Regions from separate parts of the Homo sapiens genome. Here all the other regions are linked to region 1. The links come from fine-mapping of genetic effects on gene expression. A gene starts in region 1. Each other region holds a variant in brackets. All regions are shown on one strand. Distances are from middle to middle.

The links. PIP is the estimated chance that this variant, and not a neighbour inherited with it, causes the effect.
Region 2: its variant is the best candidate, but not a certain one, in a credible set for the expression of CD164 in whole blood (INTERVAL, PIP 0.83).
Region 3: its variant is the best candidate, but not a certain one, in a credible set for the expression of CD164 in thyroid (GTEx, PIP 0.53).
Region 4: its variant is the best candidate, but not a certain one, in a credible set for the expression of CD164 in spinal cord (GTEx, PIP 0.59).

The regions. Positions count from the first base shown.
Region 1 is chr6:109,380,117-109,385,268 of GRCh38, forward strand. It overlaps CD164 (CD164 molecule), which reads right to left and starts at 2,351. Exons shown (of 6, transcript NM_006016.6): 1 at 2,088-2,351. The coding sequence starts at 2,262. RefSeq lists a silencer at 1,809-2,088 and enhancers at 2,244-2,753, 2,309-2,658, 2,739-2,968.
Region 2 is chr6:109,644,733-109,649,884 of GRCh38, forward strand. The region is part of intron 8 of AK9 (adenylate kinase 9); the gene reads right to left. Among named protein-coding and RNA genes, the nearest start is that of AK9, 44 kb to the right of the region's middle. The variant G/GCACCA (reference allele first, on the strand shown) is at 3,064.
Region 3 is chr6:109,323,859-109,329,010 of GRCh38, forward strand. It overlaps the pseudogene CCDC162P and the pseudogene RPL7P28. Among named protein-coding and RNA genes, the nearest start is that of CD164, 56 kb to the right of the region's middle. RefSeq lists an enhancer at 4,727-5,152. The variant G/A (reference allele first, on the strand shown) is at 2,517.
Region 4 is chr6:109,312,840-109,317,991 of GRCh38, forward strand. It overlaps the pseudogene CCDC162P. Among named protein-coding and RNA genes, the nearest start is that of CD164, 67 kb to the right of the region's middle. The variant G/A (reference allele first, on the strand shown) is at 3,054.

The DNA of each region.
Region 1 (5,152 bases):
AGCACTGATGATGCCCATTCTGCTGCAAACAAAGATAATTTCCCAGGGATTCTCGATTCATAAATGATCCACTCTCGACAGGATCCTCCACAACTGGAGACAACATCTAAAAGCCCATATTCAAGTGCATACAATTCAGGTTAACAAGGTATTTGTCAATAGTTCATCCTAGGCCAAACAATCCAGAAACAAGTACTCATCACCATAATTCAATTTCTGGAGAAGAACGGACTATAAAATTGGGCTCTATTTTCCAGTGAGAAAAAGCAGCAAAATAAAAGAAAAAAAAGAATTGGGCTCCATTCATTTTCCTAGAAACTAGATGCCTCCAAACATTCTCGTTTGCTTTGCTCCTGCCTAAAAAATAGTTCTGCAGAGGCACTGCTTTCAATACTTCATCATTAGTACTTATTAAAGACTGGGACATGTACGGTGGGGTGGGGAAGGGTTCATAAAGTAAAAATAAATTTTCTGAAGTTTGTATAGATAAAACATGCTGTTTAAAAACCTTTGTGCTTGACGGGTGTAGCAAAGTGAAATGTCTGAAATGTTCTTTACAATGAACTAAACTTGCTACCTTTCAGACCACACTACATCCACTTATGATTTCCAGAAAATACATACCTCCTTTGCACGCACTTCAATTACACAAAGACAAATTAATTTGATACTTCCAACCTTCTCTTACACACACACTACAATTCTGAAAGGAAACTGTCAAATTAAGACTGAGACAAACATATTCTGCTCTATCATCTTAAAATAGTGCGGTTAGAATTCCCAGTATTATACTGCAATTTACTTCCCTCGTTTTGAAATGTTACCATTACATCTTCCTTAAACTAAAAACAAAACATTAAGTTTACTATATACTTTATTAAACTTTTATAAAATACTAAAACTAGAGGAGAATTTGTAGAATATGAATGCCGTGATAAAAATCATTACACTTCGGCATTCTTCGGTCAAGAAGCCAATGTTAACTACGTAAACATTACTCCTTAACTAATGTTAACTAGAATAACCAATCATACGAGACTGCAGGTTTTAAACCTCTAGTGTTTCTCCCGCTTATTACCTCAAACTTATCTTCCTTCTCTCTTTTGTGTTGTCACGGTATATGGCAATTTCTGCTTTAAAATGTATGTATGCCTTAACCAGCCCTATGCGACTGCACATAACAAAAGACACGCTCCTGATCGGGTTTTAGAAAACCCACAGACCTGGGCACAAACCCCCGTTCCACGACCTACTAAACATACGCTATCTGAGCACAGGACATAGTTAAGAAAATTTTAAAAACAATTGAAAAAAGAATAAACATACAATGTCAGGAGAGTTTACTCATCTCCGTCTCTGCATCTACCTCCTAGGTTTCACTACCTACCTTCCAGTTTAGCCTTAGGATACGTACGCAAAACACCCGGTACATACATGGGTACTTTTCTTCCTTTTCGCATACTTTGAAGTGTGAAGTTTTCACTAACTACGTGCTCAAACGTCAGCTACATTCTATTCCTATCTGCAAAACCAATGTAATTAAATCTCAAGCGACCTTCTCAGACTCAAGTCTGAGACACGAACGAGCATTACCGTCTTTAAGTTTCTCTTTCCCGGACTTCCGGAGAAGGCTACCTCCGGAGAGAGGCGCCGGGAGGGTGAACAACCAGTGGCAGGGAGAGGCAGCTCGGCCCCACCGCCAACCTCAGAGGCGCGACGCCCGGCCCCATCCTCAACCCCACCGCTGCCCCCGCGGAAGGAAGCCACGTCCCCATTTCCGACCCCAAGTGAGGCTAGGAATTACGATGCACTTTTAAAAGGCACCTCGACTTGCAACACTTCGAGGGGGGCCCCAGCCCCGCAGCCACTGGGAACCGCGCGTCCGCTTCCCCCCAGCGCGCTCCCCACCCGGCCCGGCCACGAGTGGACTCCAGGCTGGCCGCCATGTTGCCGGAGTCGCCGCCGCACCCCGAGCGCGGCCCGCCCGCCCGACCGTGGCCCGAACCCGGGCCCCGCCCGCACGGCGAGGAGGCAGTGCGGCTCGGCTGGGCAGGGGAGGGCGGGAAGCCCACAGGGCCCGCGCCCACCTGGTGCCGGAGTGGTGACCAGCGGGAGGGACGTCACCGGCGCCGAGGTTACGTTGGAGATGGGCGCTAAAGTCGTCACGTTCGGGTGCTGGGTCGTGTTCTTGTCCGCGGACAGCACGCAGAGCACGCCCAGGCAGGTGGCGGCCCAAAGCAGTGAGCGGGAGAGCCGCGACATCGTGTCCTCAGCGCTGGCGTTCGGGAGAAAGCTAAGGCTCGCAACGCTCAGTCAACCCCTCAATCCCCTGCGGCGCCGCCTCCGAGACTACGCTCCCCCGCGGGAGCGCGCAGGGGTCACGTGAGAGGCCCCTGTTTTCGGCGTGCGGGGGCGAAGAGGAGGGAGGTGGGGCTCGGACGATACCAACGGGAATCCTACGGGGGGAAGCAGGGGAGTCGGGAGGAAGCCGAAGGAACCTGGCCCTCAAAGCGACTGTGCCACAGCCAAGAAAACTGGGAGCTTCTGCAAATCGTTCTTCTTGCCCTCAGATTACCAGACACGACGCAGCTGGACTTGTCTCATGCCTGCGATAGGGACGGCCCCCACCCTGACTTGCATGGAACAGTCGACATAATGTGGCCTACTGCTTCCACCTGAGCGCCCCGCCAGGCTGTAATTCCGCGGGCCCACGTGACCTCCGGGGCCGCGCCTTCCGGACGCAACTCCACTGGGGCGGAAGTTGGTTTTGTGCGGCTCTCAAGAACTAAGTTTGTGCTGTGCTGCGGGATCCCCAGGGAGCTTCCTTATATCTTCGGCAGGACCCCTTCTTTTTTTCTTGAAGATTGATTTTGCTAGAAGTTATCCTGTGATGGGACTCCCTAGGGGAATGGAGGCACCACGTGGTTAAGGAGTTTGTGCGTTGCCGCCCACATAGTGTGGGCAGCTGAGGCGCCGCCCGGATCAGAGCCGCAGGGCGTCTACTCTGTCACTTTCCCAACCTGACTTTTCCGGATTGCTATTTCAGACGGCGGTTGCAGCAGCCGACCTGTCTCAACTCCACCACTGTAGTCAGAGAATCAAAAGCGGTCTGAGTTGCGAGGTCATTGGGGAGGCCCCCACCCCCACATTACCAGTGAGGAAACTGAGACTTAAAAAAGTGACCTGACCTGGACACGGGATTGCCTGACATCAGAGCTGGATTCTTAAGTTCCTGTTAGTGTTAAGGCGCTGCTCAGACTTTTAGTAAAGGTGAGCGCCATCTACTGCCAAGTCTCACAAAATATTCGCAAAATTTGATACGGTTATCACATGGTAAAAATTAGACTTTAAAAGTTGTATTTAATGCTGTGTTTTCAGCTGTTGTACACTTATGTAATTTTAATTATGCAAAGTTATCCTAATAATATAGGAATATTAATTGCTTTCGTGAGGTCTGTCTTGATGTGCCACGATGACTTTTTTGATGTGCCAAAAAAGATGACTACATAGTGCTTTTACCTTTTTGCTCAAATAGAAAGATTTTATTTCCCCTTGGGATCTTTTCAGTGTCGTCCTTCTGTACCCTCAGGACTATGAACATTTGTTCCAATGACTACGCTAGTTGGAGTAGTGTTGCTTGGATGTAAACAAAAAGCTGATAGTTTTGACTGATCCAGCCCAGAAGCATGAGAATGCTGTCAGGGAAGTGAGCTCCCACCATAAGCCCTTCAGAGAAGTGTCTGCTCTTCTCTCAGGAGGCCTCTCTCTATATTTAACACTTGACTATCTGGCACCCAGACCAAATGAAAGCGCAAGGCAACTTTAATTTTTTTTTAAGGTTAAGAATGTAAATAGGGGCCGGACGCGGTGGCTCACGCCTGTAATGCCAGCACTTTGGGAGGCCAAGGCGGGTGGATCACCTGAGGTCCGGAGTTTGAGACCAGCTTGGCCAACATGGTGTAAACCCCGTCTCTCCTAAAAATACAAAAATTAGCCGGGCATGGTGGCACGTGCCTGTAATCCCAGCTACTAGCAGGGCTGAGGCAGGAGGATCGCTTGTATCCGGGAGGCGGAGGTTGCAGTGAGCCGAGATCACACCACTGCACTCCAGCTTGGGGAACAGAGCCAGACTCGTCTCAAAAAAAAAAAAAAAAAAAAAAATGTAAATAGAAGCTCTGTTCTCAGAGCTTGGTGTGTTATCTTCTTTCCACCCTAGGATAAACACACTCCTCTGTGCAGACCATTGTTTAACAATTTGTCACCTGGATGTTTAACTCTAGTCCTCAGATATTCCTCAGTCCTGATAAAGGGACATTTCACGCTCTTGTTTTAAGACTAGAAAACCATTGGTTTATTTTATTTTGCATGGCAACTGTAGAGGTAGATCAAGGGAGTTCCAAAGTCATTTTCACCATTTCAGAGAGACAGCTTTTTTTTTTTCAGTTCCTGACAGTAAGCTTCTGTTTATTGTTGTCATAGAGCAGGGTTTCTCAATCTTGGCGCTATCAAGATTTCAGGCTGACTCATTCTTGCTTGTCCTGTGCATTGTTGGATATTCGGCAGTATTCGTAGCCTCTACACACTAGATACCAGAAGCACCCCACCTCTCAGTTGTGACAACCAAAAATATCTCCCGATATTGTTAAATGTCTCCTGGGGGTAAAATCACAATTGAAAGGCACCCTCAGAGCGTTCTTCTGTGTGCAAGGTCAGCCATCACTCAGGTTATTTCCTCTTAGACACATTGCTTGCAATTAGATTGTCGATTGGTTGTTAGAGCGACCTTCTTAACCATTTATTTTCTTGAAAGCAGCAAGACAGAGTGCTTCTGCGCTTGTGAATCTTCTAGCAGTATAAGCTCCCTCTAAGTTTTTTAAACAGCAGATTTTTAAACAATGCTTCAGCCTTGTGTCAGTACCTTTCCCCAAATAAACAGATCAACACTCCAAACAGGACCCTGCCTTCTAGCTATAACTAACATCCAGTGGCCCCTTAATAATCAGAGGTTTGCCTCCACTACTTGATAGCAAGAAGTACAAACCCCCTTGTACTAGCTTATGTTAAAGGGAATCCATTCACTGTAAGAATATGACAGTAAATCTTATAGGCATTCAGGGGTGGGAAATCAAGTGTGTGAGGGCCAAGGGAGACT
Region 2 (5,152 bases), 260 kb after region 1:
AAAACTGAATACAAGATCAGAATCTTAATATACTGTGCAGATATATTTAAAGTAAATTGTTTGCCTTATACATGCTATAATGTATGTTATTTTCAATGCTCAAGAGATCTTTTGCAAAAGCTCAAACTAATCTTCTCACCATGAATTTTATTTTCCTGTTTAAAAAAATCTTTTTTCTCTACTTTGATGCCTTAATGTTTTTTCCAATACAAAATGTTTTGGGGCATCTATCTGCATATGTTCATAGCTTTGCTATTTGGTTTCTAAACCATGGAAGCATCTGATTAAACTTTAAGTCACAGACTTTCTTCACATAGATACTAGCATCATTTAGAAGATACAACGTATTTTGATCGTTCCAAGATGGCCAAATAGGAACAGTTCCGGTCTACAGCTCCCAGCGTGATCGATGCAGAAGATGGGTGATTTCTGCATTTCCAACTGAGGTACTTGGTTCATCTCAATGGGACTGGTTGGACAGTGGGTGCAGCCCATGGAGGGCGAGCCGAAGCAGGGCAGGGCATCACTTCACCTGGGAAGCACAAGGGGTGGGGGGATTTCGCTTTCCTAGCCAAGGGAAAGTGTTTCCAAGGGTACCTGGAAAATCGGGACACTCCTGCCCTAATACTGCGCTTTTCCAACAGTCTTAGCAAATGGCACACCAGGAGATTATATGCTGCGCCTGGCTCAGAGCACCCCATGCCCACAGAGCCTTGCTCACTGCTAGCACAGCAGTCCAAGATCCAACTGCGAGGCAGCAGCCAGGCTGGGCGAGGGGCATCCGCCATTGCTGAGGCTTGACTAGGTAAACAAAGCAGCCAGAAGCTCAAACTGGGTGGAGCCCACCACAGCTCAACGAGGCCTGCCTGCCTCTGTAGACTCCACCTCTGGGGGCAGGGCATAGCTGAACAAAAGGCAGCAGAAACTTGTGCAGACTTAAACGTCCCTGTCTGACAGCTTTGAAGACAGCAGTGGTTCTCCCAGCACAGAGTTTGAGCTCTGAGAATGGAGAGACTGCCTCCTCAAGTGGGTCTCTGACCCTTGAGTAGCCTAACTTGGAGACACCTCCCAGTAGGGGCTCACTGACACCTCATACAGCCAAGAGCTCCTCTGAGATGAAGCTTCCAGAGGAAGGATCAGGCAGCAACATTTGCTGTTCTGCAATATTTGATGTTCTGTTCTACAGCGTTCGCTGGTGATACCCAGGCAAACAGGGTATCCATAGAGTGGACCTCCAGCAAACTCCAACAGACCTGCAGCTGAGGGTCCTAACTGTTAGAAGGAAAACTAACAAACAGAAAACAGTAGCATCAACATCAACAAAAAGGACATCGACACCAAAACCCCATCTGTAAGTCACCATCATCAAAGACCAAAGGTAGATAAAATCACAAAGATGGGGAGAAACCAGAGCAGAACAGCTGAAAATTCTAAAAACCAGAGTGCCTCTAATCCTCCAAAGGATTGCAGCCCCTCACCAGCAATGGAAGAAAGCTGGACGGAGAATGACTTTGACAAGTTGACAGAAGTAGGCTTCAGAAGGTCGGTAATAACAAACTTCTCTGAGCTAAAGGAGGATGTTTGAACCCATTGCAAGGAAGGTAAAAACCTTGAAAAAAGGTTAGACGAATGGCTAACTAGAATAAACAGGGTAGACAAGACCTTAAATGACATGATGGAGCTGAAAACCATGGCATGAGAACTACGTGATGCATGCACAAGCTTCAGTAGCTGATTCAATCAAGTGGAAGAAAGGGTACCAGTGATTGAAGATCAAATGAATGAAATGAAGCAAGAAGTTTAGAAAAAAAAGAGTAAAAAGAAATGAAAGAGCCTCCAAGAAATATGGGACTATGTGAAAAGACCAAACCTAAGTTTGATTGGTGTACCTGAAAGTGACAGGGAGAACAGACCTAAGTTGGAAAACACTCTTCAGGATATTATCCAGGAAAACTTCCCCAACCTAGCAAGGCAGGCCAACATTCAAATTCAGGAAATACAGAGAACGCTACAAAGATACTCCTTGAGAAGAGCAACCCCAAGACACATAATTGTCAGATTCACCAAGGTTAAAATGAAGGAAAAAATGTTAAGGGCAGCCAGAGAGAAAGGTTGGGTTACCCACAAAGAGAAGCCCATCAGACTAACAGTGGATCTCTTGGCAGAAACTCCACAAGCCAGAAGAGAGTGGGGGCCAATATTCAACATTCTTAAAGAAAATAATTTTCAACCCAGAATTTCATATCCAGCCAAACTAAGCTTCATAACTGAAGGAGAAATAAAATCCTTTACAGACAAGCAAATGCTGAGAGATTTTGTCACCACCAGGCCCGCCTTACAAGAGCTCCTGAGGAAACACTAAGCATGGAAAGGAACAACCAGTAACAGTCACTGAAAAAACATGCCAAGTTGTAAAGAGCATCAAGGCTAGGAAGAAACTGCATCAGCTAACGAGCAAAATAACCAGCTAACATCATAATGACAGGATCAAATTCACAAATAACAATATTAACTTTAAATGTAAATGGGCTAAATGCTCCAATTAAAAGACACAGATTGGCAAATTGGATAAAGAGTCAAGACCCATCAGTGTGCTGTATTCAGGAGACCCATCTCACGTGCAGAGACACACATAGGCTCAAAATAAAGGGATGGAGGAAGATCTACCAAGAAAATGGAAAACAAAAAAAGGCAGGGGTTGCAATCCTAGTCTCTGATAAAACAGACTTGAAACCAACAAAGATCAAAAGAGACAAGGAAGGCCATTACATAATGGTAAAGGGATCAGTTCAACAATAAGAGCTAACTATTCTAAATATATATGCACCCAATACAGGAGCACCCAGATTCATAAAGCAAGTCCTTAGTGACTTACAAAGAAACTTAGACTCCCACACAATAATAATGGGAGACTTTAACACCCCACTGTCAACATTAGACAGATCAACGAGACAGAAAGTTAACAAGGATACCCAGGAATTGAACTCAGCTCTGCAACAAGCAGATCTAATAGACATCTACAGAACTCTCCACCCCAAATCAACAGAATATACATTCTTCTCA[G/GCACCA]CACCACACCACACCTACTCCAAAACTGACCACATAGTTGGAAGTAAAGAACTCCTCAGCAAATGTAAAAGAACAGAAATTATAACAAACTGTCTCTCAGACCACAGTGCAATCAAACTAGAACTCAGGATTAAGAAACTCACTCAAAACCGCTCAACTACATGGAAACTGAACAACCTGCTCCTGAATGACTACTGGGTACATAATGAAATGAAGGCAGAAATAAAGATGTTCTTTGAAACCAACGAGAACAAAGACACAACATACCAGAATCTCTGGGACACATTCAAAGCAGTGAGTAGAGGGAAATTTATAGCACTAAATGCCCACAAGAGAAAGCAGGCAAGATCTAAAATTGACACCCTAACATCACAATTAAAAGAACTAGAAAAGCAAGAGCAAACACATTGAAAAGCTAGCAGAAGGTAAGACATAACTAAGATCAGAGCAGAACTGAAGGAAATAGAGACACAAAAAAATCCTTCAAAAAATCAATGAATCCAGGAGCTAGTTTTTTGAAAAGATCAACAAAATTGATAGAACGCTAGCAAGACTAATAAAGAAGAAAAGAGAGAAGAATCAAATAGACACAATAAAAAATGATAAAGGGGATATCACCACCAATCCCACAGAAATAGAAACTATCATAAGAGAATACTATAAATACCTCTACACAAATAAACTAGAAAATCTAGAAGAAATAGATAAATTCCTCGACACATACACCCTCCCAAGACTAAACCAGGAAGAAGTTGAATCTCTGAATAGACCAATAACAGGCTCTGAAATTGACGCAATAATCAATAGCTTACCAAACAAAAAGAGTCCAGGACCAGATGGATTCACAGCCAAATTCTACCAAAGGTACAAAGAGGAGCTGGTACCATTCCTTCTGAAACTATTCCAATCAATAGAAAAAGAGGGAATCCTCCCTAATTCATTTTATGAGGTCAGCATCATCCTGATACCAAAGACTGGCAGAGACACAACCAAAAAAGAGAATTTTAGACCAATATCCTTGATGAACATCGATGCAAAAATCCTCAATAAAATACTGGCAAACCGAATCCAGCAGCACATCAAAAAGTTTATCCACCATGATCAAGTGGGCTTCATCCCTGGGATGCAAGGCTGGTACAATATATGCAAATCAATAAATGTAATCCAACATATAAACAGAACCAAAGACAAAAACCACATGATTATCTCAACAGATGCAGAAAAGGCCTTTGACAAAATTCAACAACCGTTCATGCTAAAAACTCTCAATAAATTAGTTATTGATGGGACATATCTCAAAATAATAAGAGTTATCTATGACAAACCCACAGCGAATATCATACTGAATGGACACAAACTGGAAGCATTCCCTTTGAAAACTGGCACAAGACAGGGATGCCCTCTCTCACCACTCCTATTCAACATAGTGTTGGAAGTTCTGGCCAGGGCAATCAGGCAGGAGAAGGAAATAAAGGGTATTCAATTAGGAAAAGAGGAAGTCAAATTGTCCCTGTTTGCAGATGACATGATTGCATATCTAGAAAACCCCATCGTCTCAGCCCAAAATCTCCTCAAGCTGATAAGCAACTTCAGCAAAGTCTCAGGATACAAAATCAATGTATAAAAATCACAAGCATTCTTATACACCAATAACAGAGAGCCAAATCATGAGTGAACTCCCATTCACAATTGCTTCGAAGAGAATAAAATACCTAGGAATCCAACTTACAAGGGATGTGAAGGACCTCTTCAAGGAGAACTACAAACCACTGCTCAATGAAATAAAAGAGGACACAAACAAATGGAAGAACATTCCATGCTCATGGGTAGGAACAATCAATATCGTGAAAATGGCCATACTGCCCAAGGTAATTTATAGATTCAATGCCATCCCCATCAAGCTACCAATGACTTTCTTCACAGAATTGGAAAAAACTACTTTAAAGTTCATATGGAACCAAAAAAGAGCTGGCATCGCCAAGGCAATCCTAAGCCAAAAGAACAAAGCTGGAGGCATCACGCTACCTGACTTCAAACTATACTACAAGGCTACAGTAACCAAAACAGTGTGGTACTGGTACCAAAACAG
Region 3 (5,152 bases), 56 kb before region 1:
AAATACCAGAGGCTCTGGCTCTGTTGTGCCCACATTTCTGGGTGGACTGTGCTAGGTGTTTCGTCTTGGGAGCACTGAGCCTCCTGTCAGTAAATTGAGTGTGCAGGTAGGAAGTCTCATCTGAAATTAGAAACAGCTGGGGCAGGAGCAGGCTGGCAGGTGTCCCTGCTGATGACCAGCACCCCCCATTAACAGAAAACGGAGTGAGGTGGAGCGTGGCTCCTAAGTCCAACTCCATAGATCGCTTCCCTTCAGTATTCCCCTGGGACCACCACGAGGAGGTAGGCACTATCCAGCCAGTTCTTACCATTGTAATTAACGTGCACATGTGCTTTTGCTCTTCCACGTGGATGGAAGTCAAGCAGTGTTGACATTCTCACATCGTTCCACCACTGTCATGTTATTTTTAAGTATCTTATTTTTAACAGATAATATATGCACATGGTTCCAAACTCAAAATGATGAAAAATATACATTTAGAGTCTTGTTGTCACCATGAACCCCCTTGCATCCTAGTCTGCCACCTGTACGTAACCACTTTCATTAGTTTTCTGCATGTTCTTTCAGTGCTGCTTTGTGCATATATTCATTCTTTCATTCAATAACTATTCAATAAATATTTACATTCTTTCATTACAGGAACTATTCCATGTCCTAGGCTACTATATTTTAGGAAATATTTTAGGAATATATTCTTCCTTTCATTGAGTTTATAATCTAGGAAGGGGTAGACAACAAGCGATAACATAAGAAAAAGGAAAGCAATGGAGTAAGGAAGGGTGGTGTTGCGGCGGTTTGAAGGGGTCCACTGCAATTTTAAATTGGGTGATTAGGGTAGACCTCACTGAGTGAGTGATGTTTTGAGCAAAAGTTTGAAATAAGGTGAGGAATTGAGCTATGAGGGTATCTAAGGGAAGAGCATTCCAGACAGAAGGAACAAGCCATACAAAGGCCCTATGCAGAGCACGCCTATTATATTCAAAGAATAGCAAGGACCTAAGTGTGGCTGGAGTGGAGACCGTGAGGGAGAAAAAGTAGTAAGCGTTGAAGTCAGAGAGGGAGGGGGAAGGGGGGCAGACCATGCAAGGCCTTTTGAGGCTTTTGTGTTTACTCTAAATGCAGTGGGGACCAAGTCTCAGATTTTGAGTGTCATGATCTGGCTTATATTTTGACAGAATCTCTCTGGCTAAGGTGTGGAGAATAGGCTGTGAAGGAAGAAAGGGTGAAAGTAGAAAGAAGCTGGTGTGGAGGTTACTGCAATAACTGAAGAAAGGAGTGATGGTGGCTCAAACTTGGGAGCAGTGGAAATAGTGAATGGTCAAACTCTGGGCTTATTGTGAAGTAGGCACTAATGGGTTCAGTATTATTAGGTATGTGAGAAAGAAAAACCAATTATGACTCCAGCGTTCTCAATTGGGAAGATAGAATTTCTATCAGCTGAGAGGAAAACTGTGAAGCAAGTTAGGGAGGGAAGATTGGGAATTTGATTATGCACAAATTAAGTTTTAAATGCCTTTTAGACATCCAAGAAGACATGCCAAGTGAGTATTGGATCTAAATTTGCGAGTTGTCAGGATATGAATGGTATTTAGCTGTGAGACGAGATGAGAACGCCAAGGGAGTGAATATATATAGAAGTGAGGAGGTGGACCACGGCTGAGCCCTGAGACACTCTAATGTTAACAGCTGGGGGTGGTGGGGGAGGAGAAATAGCAAAAGACATCTAGAAGGAATAGAAAGAACAAACGTTGAGTTAGGAAAACTAGGGCACCGCAGTGTCCCAATGCCTAGTGAAGGAGATTTCTCAAGCAGGAGGAAGCGACAAATTGTGTGAAATGCTGCTGGTAGTTGAGTAAAACCACTGGCTTTAGCCACGTGCAGATCACTGGTGTTTGTGACAAAATCAGTTTCAGTGAAGTGGTGGAGGTGAAAACCAGGTAAGTGGGGTTAAGAGAGAATTTGTAAGACGTCAAAGGCAGTTTAAGTATAGACTTCTCTATCTGGGAGTTTTGCTACAACAGGGTACAAAGAAATGAGGCAATAGCTGATGGGTGAAGTGGGGTCAAGAGAAAGGTTTTTATGAGACGAGAGAAATAATGTATACTATTGTGAGTGATCCAGGAAAGAGGGGAGAAATGATGATAGAGAAGAAAGGGGAGTTTCTGGGGTAGTAATCCTAGTAGGCTTGAGGGGATATCCTCCCCCTTTATTATCATTTTAGTTATCTTTCTTATAAAATGTGGCATTTTATGGCCACTGTTCTGCACCTTGCCTTTTTCATTTAACAATCTGTGCTTCTTTTCATAACAGTATATGGAGAATTTTTCTTTTTTTCACAGCTGCGTACTATTTCATTGGAAGGATATGCCATAGTTTAAGTACGCCCTGAAGGGTGGACACTTGTGTGCTTCCAAGCTTTTGCTGCCATAACCAATGTTCCTCTGAATAACTCTGGTTATTTTCTTTAAATTTTTATATTTTTTCAAATTTATTTACCTTTTTTATTGCAGAGACAA[G/A]TGAACATTTATTTTTGTGCCTTTCTTCCTATGTGTATTTCAAGTCTTTTTCAAAGCAAGGCCCCAGGAATCTCTAGATTCAATTATGTCCCTGGGCTTGGTCGACTGCTGCAGGAGTCTTAGGGAGCCTTGTACAGATGCTAGAGTTACTCATTTACCAACATTAAACCCTGGGATAGACGATGCAGCAAAGCGGACGCCTTCCTCCATGGAATGTGCTGATTTCAGACGGGGCATCAGCCAATGTAGAAAACACTAACATTTTTTCTTGGAACTGGATTGTGATGAGAGGTGCTTGCCGTGAACATAAGCTACTATCTTTTGTTTTTTGGGTTGTTTTTTGTTTTGTTTTGTTTTGTTTTTGAGACGGAGTTTTGCTCTTGTTGCCCAGGCTGGAGGGCAATGGTGCGATCTTGACTCACCACAACCTCCGCCTCCCGGGTTCAAGCGATTTTCCTGCCTCAGCCTCCCGAGTAGCTGGGATTACAGGTGTGCACCATCACGCCCGGCTAATTTTTGTATTTTTAGTAGAGACAGGGTTTTTCCATGTTGTTCAGGCTGATCTTGAACTCTTGACCTCAGGTGATCTGCCTGCCTCAGTCTCCCAAAGTGTTGGAATTACAGGCGTGAGCCACCGCGCCTGGCCAGCTGCTGTCTTTTCTTTGGCGCTTCCTTTCCAGTTTTTGAAGATAAGGCAGGAAATAATCTTCTCTGAACATACTTGATAAAAATTCCCCAAAAAACAAAAACACATGCTTCCACTTCATTGACAAAAATTTACTGCAGTTTGGCACCTGGGTCTAGTTCAGCTGGCGGATAAGCTGATTGATGCGTTCACCCCGATAGCCAGGTGTGCCCATCTCCTTGAGGAAGCCCACTCTATTTTTGGTAGCATGACAGGCCACTGAGAGGTGGAAAGGGTGCAAGAACCATGGCATCTCCTGGAAATGCTTCCCTGGGGAGGCAATTTCATGAATGAGGTCTTCCAAGCAAATGATGCCAAACTTCCCCAGGTGCTCCTCAATCACTGTGTTGTCTGTCAGAGGGATGGTCTTATTCTTGACCTCGGATTCTCCATGTTTCAAAATGAGTTGCCAGACAGACTTCGGATTTGGAAATCCAAAGGTAACATAAGGTTCCACTATACGCAGCATTTTTAGGTTCTGGGGGGTTACTTTTACAAGACACCACTAAAAATTTTCTTTAGGTGAAGTGTTGCAATGGTTCTCTGCACCAGTAAACTCACACCATTAATCCTTTCAATGCGTTCAACAAAGGCCAAAGGATGTTTATCTGGCAATTCCAAAGTGTGAAGTTTCACTTCTAGTCATCTGAGATGCACCTTGTCACGTTTCTGCCGCCAGGAACCATGTAGGAATGATTCCAGTCATTTAAACCTGAGCCCTTTTCCTTTCCTCTGCTCCTTCTTTGCCAAAAGTGCCTGCTTTGCCTGGATGGCTTTGAGAGCTTGATAAGCCTTCCTCTTTTTCAGGAGATTTTCTGGAACCAAAGGGATTTTTCTTCGCTCTTGCTCTGCCATCTTTCTAGTGTTGCAGCTACTGATCACGTGCAACCCCTTTAATTTTTTTTTTTAGAGCAAGGATCTCAACCTGTTTCCCAGGCTGGAGTGCAGCGATGTAATCATGGTTCACTGTAGCCTTGACCTCCTGGGCTCAAGGGATTCTCCCACCTCAGCCTCCCAAGTAGCTAGGACTACAGGCATGCACCATCATGCCTGTCTATTTTAAATGTTTTGTGGAGATGGGGTCTCACTATGTTGCCCAGACTGGTCTGAACTCCTGGCCTCAAGTGAACTTTGTATATGCCTCATCCCATCTGTGTCAGCCATATTGCTGCTTCAATCTTGGAGCTAAAGTTCAGTCTGTCAACATTTCTAATCTGTAACTCTAACTTCTCTCTTTTGAATTTCCTCTCCTTTTTTATCACTATTATATATTCAAGTTAATTTTGCCCTCTAGCACTAGGAACTTAAGCAGATAAATATAATAGCTGTTCATTTATTTCTGATCATTGTTTTAGACCAAAATAATTGGCAGATACATAGAAGGCCTTAATAAAAATAAAGATGATGTAGGATTGATACTAATATTTGATTTGGGGTTTTTAGTTATGGTAATGGAATATTCCCTGGATTTCATAGGTGCTCTTCCAAATCTTTGCATTAGGAGTCAGGTTAGAGATCTTCCTAGTTCCCATGTTCCAGAGGGTCTTGGATCCCCAGTTGCCCAGCCCCCATTAGTTTTTGCATACAGTTGACCTTTGAACAACATGGTTTGAACTGTGCACGTCCACTGATACACAGATTTTTTTTCAACCAGATGAGGATAGAAAATACAGCATTCGGGATGTGAAAACCACGTGTGCAGAGGGCAGATATTTGTATCCACGAGCTCCCCAGGGCTGACTGCAGGATTTGAATATGCATGGATTCAGGATCTGAGGGTGTTCCTGGGAACAATCCCCAGTCCCCTGCATGTATCAAGGGGCAGCTGAGTTTAGAAACAGCTTATTGTGTCCCATGTTCTGTCTCAGAGAGTTGCCATTTTATAGCCATTAATGACAGCACAATGTTTTGTGGTACTAGTGCCAGTATGTTTTTCCCCCTAGATCTCTGG
Region 4 (5,152 bases), 67 kb before region 1:
GCTTCTTGAGCTGGGGAGCGGGGGCGGCAATTACATGGCCTCCAGGCTGTCCCCTTCATGTCACCATGCTTGGCCTTGGTCTGTTGAATATTTGGGCCAGTGTGTAAGAATTCATTTGATGAAAGAGCTCTGAGGATAAAATAAAATCTGGAAATCCATGCACTAGCTGATTGTTGGGGAGGCAGGCTACAAGACTGAGGAGTTACCAGCAGTCTACAGGAACTCGCTCTCCCCTGGTTCTTGCTTATCAATTCTTCCTTGGACAATTTGACCAATACTCTTCCTGGCAGGCAGGCTTTTCCTTAGATATGTTAATACCACTGCTCTAGGATCCAATTATACCAGGTTGTTCTCCCTGTTTCTAGCCAGGAAACGTGAGTGTCTCGGGTACTGTCACCTAAATGCTCTCTAAGCCTCTTTTTATCATAACGTCATGGGATTTGCCAACCTGGTCTGCCAAGAAGAGCTCCTTTTTCTGTGACTGAGACACTATGTACAGGCAGTGGGCCTGGACGTGATCCTCATTTTGTTCCTCACTCTGGGTGACCCTGGCCCTCAGACCGCTGGCTGCAGGACAGCAGGACAAACAAGGACCTGAATACCTTGTTTCCTCCATGTCCTCCAGGGCTCATAGCAGCCCCTCCACAATTATTTACTTAAGGAAAGCACCAATGAATAAATGAAGAAATCATAATTTTAAAGTAATCTTTCTTATTGAATGATAAATTCTAATTAAGAGAAATGTTTCCTGCCTAACTTCTAAAAGAGGAGAAGAAACAGGAGGTAGGATAAATTAACTTTCTATTTCTTTACCCATAAGATGGGTAAAATCCTGAATGGAAAGTTACTTCTTGGCCCCACCGTGATGGGAACTTTAATCTCAGGTATATTGAAGAGCACTTTCCAGAATGCAGAGGGAAAACACAAAAGGCTCAGTTTTTCAAAGGCAGATAAAACGTTAGTATGCAAGTAAGCGAGTTTTCAAAATGAATGGTTCCAGACCCAAGCAAAAAGCTGCAGTTGAGACATTCCTATCCTTTCCATAAACTGTTCATGAAGGATGGTCAACCTCTCTCAACTCTATATGTGCTGTGGGCCTGTAAACCATTCCTCCTGGGGAAAAAGTTAATTCTCCAAAGACTTTGTTTTGCACAGGCTGCATGTGAAAGGTTAGCCTGTGTTGGTCCATGATCAATAAAGAAGGATTTCCATAATGCTTTCAGCCAGATTGGTCCAAAGTGCCAGGATTCAGAAGTCAGTTCCGAAGCAGCCCAAAGACCTCTGAGCTGCTGGAGGGCCTGTGCGATGCGGTGATGTCCTTTGCTTTGCTGAGATCATTTCTGATACTGTGGAAGCAGCTGGAAGTGCTAAAGGAGCACTGGGGCCGACTCAAGCTGCAAGGCCAGGATATCAACTCTGTCTCTCTCCACAAACGGTTTTCAGAGCTCTATGAGTGAGTGTTGCTGATGCTGAAATTCATGGCCATGACTAGAACCTGGGGGATGGCAGATTCCTGCCCTTAGTCTGAGGGCGAGATTTGGTCCATGAATCCTAATATGACCCGTTAGACCCACGGACTGAGTCTCTCAGAGCTTGTGGCATTGCAGCCAGAGATATACAGATGGCACATGCGGCACAAGTCTGAGGAATGGGAGGCATTCTAGCAGCTGCAGGCCCTGGCTCGAATGACGTAGCTGGCTGGGAAGGCGTGTTGCTTCTGCCACGTGTCTGTTAACAAACGAACATTTGCTAAGCACCCCCATACACCCTGGGCCTTACCAAGCTTAAGAACGTTTGCTTTAGGCCAGGCGTGGTGGCTCACAGCTGTAATCCCAGCACTTGGGGAGGCTGAGGCGGGTGGATTACCTGAGGTCAGAAGTTTGAGACCAGCCTGGCCAACACGGTGAAACCCTGTCTCTACTAAAAATACAAAAAATTGACCAGGTGTGATGGTGGGTACCTGTAATCCCAGCTACTCGGGAGGCTGAGGCAGAAGAATGGCTTGAACCCAGGAGGCGGAGGTTGCAGTGAGCTGAGATCGCACCATTGCACTCCAGCCTGGGCAACAAGTGTGAAACTCCCTCTCAAAAAACAAAAACAAACAACAACAACAACAATAACAACAACAAAAAGTTCACTTTGGTACAGCCAGATTGTTTATCTTGTGAAATTATTATAGTCAGTGTCCCTGATAACTAGGGAAGGTGAAGACTTGTCAATATTTTGAAGAATGAGGACTGAAATTATATGCACCCAATGGGAAAAAGCCTCACGATTTCATGTGGCTAAGGAATGATAACTGTGGTGAATTAAATGTTGATGTATCTGTGAATGGGTTAGGATACTGATGATAGGAAAGAGAAAATGAATGAAAATAATTATCAGAGAATTGAAATGAGAAAAAATATGTTTGCTAATTTCTGTCTTTCTTCTTTAATAGAACTGACGTTCTCTACCCCAGCATGAAAGCTATAGCCAGGCAGATGGGGAAAGAAGATGAATTTGAAGGATTTATAGTAAATAATCAGTCTGTTCTTCCCCCCAGTGGAGCCTCAGAAGTTGAAATAAAAACTCACCAAGTATGCAGGATATATTTTAAATTTGCCTTTGAAAATGTCCTTTATGGCATTAGCATGTAAAACTACAGGCATACCCAAATGGTATTTTTTCCAAGAAGCTGAGTGTAAATTGCAGGGTTGTAAATCATTGAATGGGCTGGAGGGAGGGCAGGACTAAGTATTTAAAGCCATGTGGTGCTTCGATGAAGCAAATTACTACCCTTAATGTCCCTGTTCTATAAGTCTGGATTTTTATCATTTTGATTTTCCTCAAATTGATGTGTACCTTCATAAGAATGATCATAGAAAACATAACCACTATCTTAAGCATAAAATTTAGCATGCAAGTATTCACATGGAAATGAAATATTTGTAAAAGCTCCCTGTAATTGTTTTTCTGAGAATAAGAAAATGCCCATTTGGTATGTGTAAGATGATCTGTGTGGAGAAGTTGTTTTCCCGAGTCTTTGTTCAGCTTGATCCTGGGACTCACGC[G/A]CTCTGTGGCTGGGCTTATTGTACCAGGCAAGCAAAGCCTCGGCTGTTCGGTTGTCAATGCACAGATGCTCATCCACTGAGCAACAAGGAGAAGTCAGCCCCTGTCAGGCCCCAGTGCCAAGCTCACTGCTTACCCTTCTGAGCCCTATTCCTTTCCAGTACCTGGGGGCCTTCAACAGGGAGAAACCTACACTCTGCAAGCATAATGGATTGAGTGAGGGCTCACAGTTTTTGGAAGACTTTACTGTTGGTCCTACATGGAGTTTTAAATCTTGTGAAATCTTCCTTGGTATCTAAATCAAGTTTTATACCTGAGGGCTTCTTTTTTTTTTTTGAGTCTTGCTCTGTCGCCCAGGCTAGAGTGCAGTGGCGCGATCTCAGCTCACTGCAACCTCCGCCTCTCAGGTTCAAGCAATTCTCCTGCCTCAGTCTCCCGAGTAGCTGGGATTACAGGCGCCCGGCTAATTTTTTTATTTTTAGTAGAGATGGGGTTTCATCATCTTGGCTAGGCTGGTCTCGAACTCCTGACCTTGTGATCCACCTGCCTCGGCCTCCCAAAGTGTTGAGATTACAGGTGTGAGCCATTGTGCCCGGCTGAGAGCTTCTTTTGTAATGAGAACTCACAGAATCCTAGCCACATTTAGAGACCCCGGAAGACATGAGGTCACCCCAGGGATTAGACACTTTGCAATTTAGCAAAACTTGGTTAAAAAAAAAAAAAGGATTGTATTTTATCAATGAGGATGTGAGCCAGGAAGAAAAGGTGCTAGTCTCCAGGGAGGTACATCTGTGCCCCCAGAAGCACTTGGGAGACCTAGAAGGGAAGTGTTCCTTCTTTCCCGGGAGAGTAGCTGAGGGACAGGCCCTAGCCCAAAGCCCTTCTGCAGGAATGTGACACGGGACCCAAAATATAATCTGAATGTAGTGAGTGACCCTCAACCTATGCTTACTCTAGCTTCAAAAACTTCTGGAAAATTGTGAAATTCAAATGATCCAAGAGGTACTAAGAAAAGTTAACAGAGAAATGACACTGGTTTTATCAGAAAAGTGCAAGGAGGAGTGTTCTCTCCCTACAGGTAAAGTACATTTATTTTGTTACTTCACAAAATAATGTTTATTGGTTTTTCCTAATTACGAAAGCAATTCATGTATCGACATTTGTTGTAAAAACAAGCAAAAACCAAAACATCGGTGCGATGCCCGGAAAATGATATAAAAATGACCTTTTACCCTTGACCCTGTGCAATGAAAGGGCAAGCCTCTCCCCAGCTGGGTGTCTCTAAATGCCACCAGAGAGCTGAGTGTGGTTGAGCTCTAGTTACAGAACCTGCAACAAGACACAAAGCCCTTTGGTATATTTCTTTCCCTGTACAAAGGCTTTTTTAAACAAATGGAAAACATAGTTTCACTTCAGTTTCAACTCTACTGATTAACTCATAACTGAAATAAAGTTGAAATGAAGGGAAACCTAAAGCCTTTCTTATTTGTAACATATATAAGTTATGATATGTCAAATTTGTATATTTAGGGTATGAAGGCAATCAGAATGGTTCCTTCCATCTGAGGTCCAAACTTGGGGCCACTTCACGGGCATGTGACACACAGGATGCAGAGGGGCACTTGAGATTTCATGTTCTGTGATCACCATCCTGAAACTTTTAATGGTTTACCTTTGAATTTGTTCAAAGTTACAATTCTAGGTACCTAAAGTGGGCAGGAGGCTTACCCTTCCTGAGCTACCCATTGAACGCATGGTGTTGCTGCCAGCCTGGGACCCCTGAGATGCTGCCGGGTGCACACGTCTGACCTTGACCCTCCCTGTACCCAGAGGGGACGGGGACCTTGGCACAGGGAGGGTCAAGGTCAGGCGTGTGCACCTGGCAGCATCTCAGGGGTCTTAGGCTGGCAGCACCACCATGTGTTCAATGGGTAGCTCAGTGAGGGCAAGCCTCCTGCCCACCTTGGGTACCTAGAGTCTCTCAGGACAGAGGTTGCAGTACTCTTGGGGGTTGCCTTTCCACAGTGGATTGGGGTGGTGGGAAGGGGAGATGCCTGACTCAACTTCTCATCCCCAGGCAGGGCCCGGTGCCTCAGTCTGG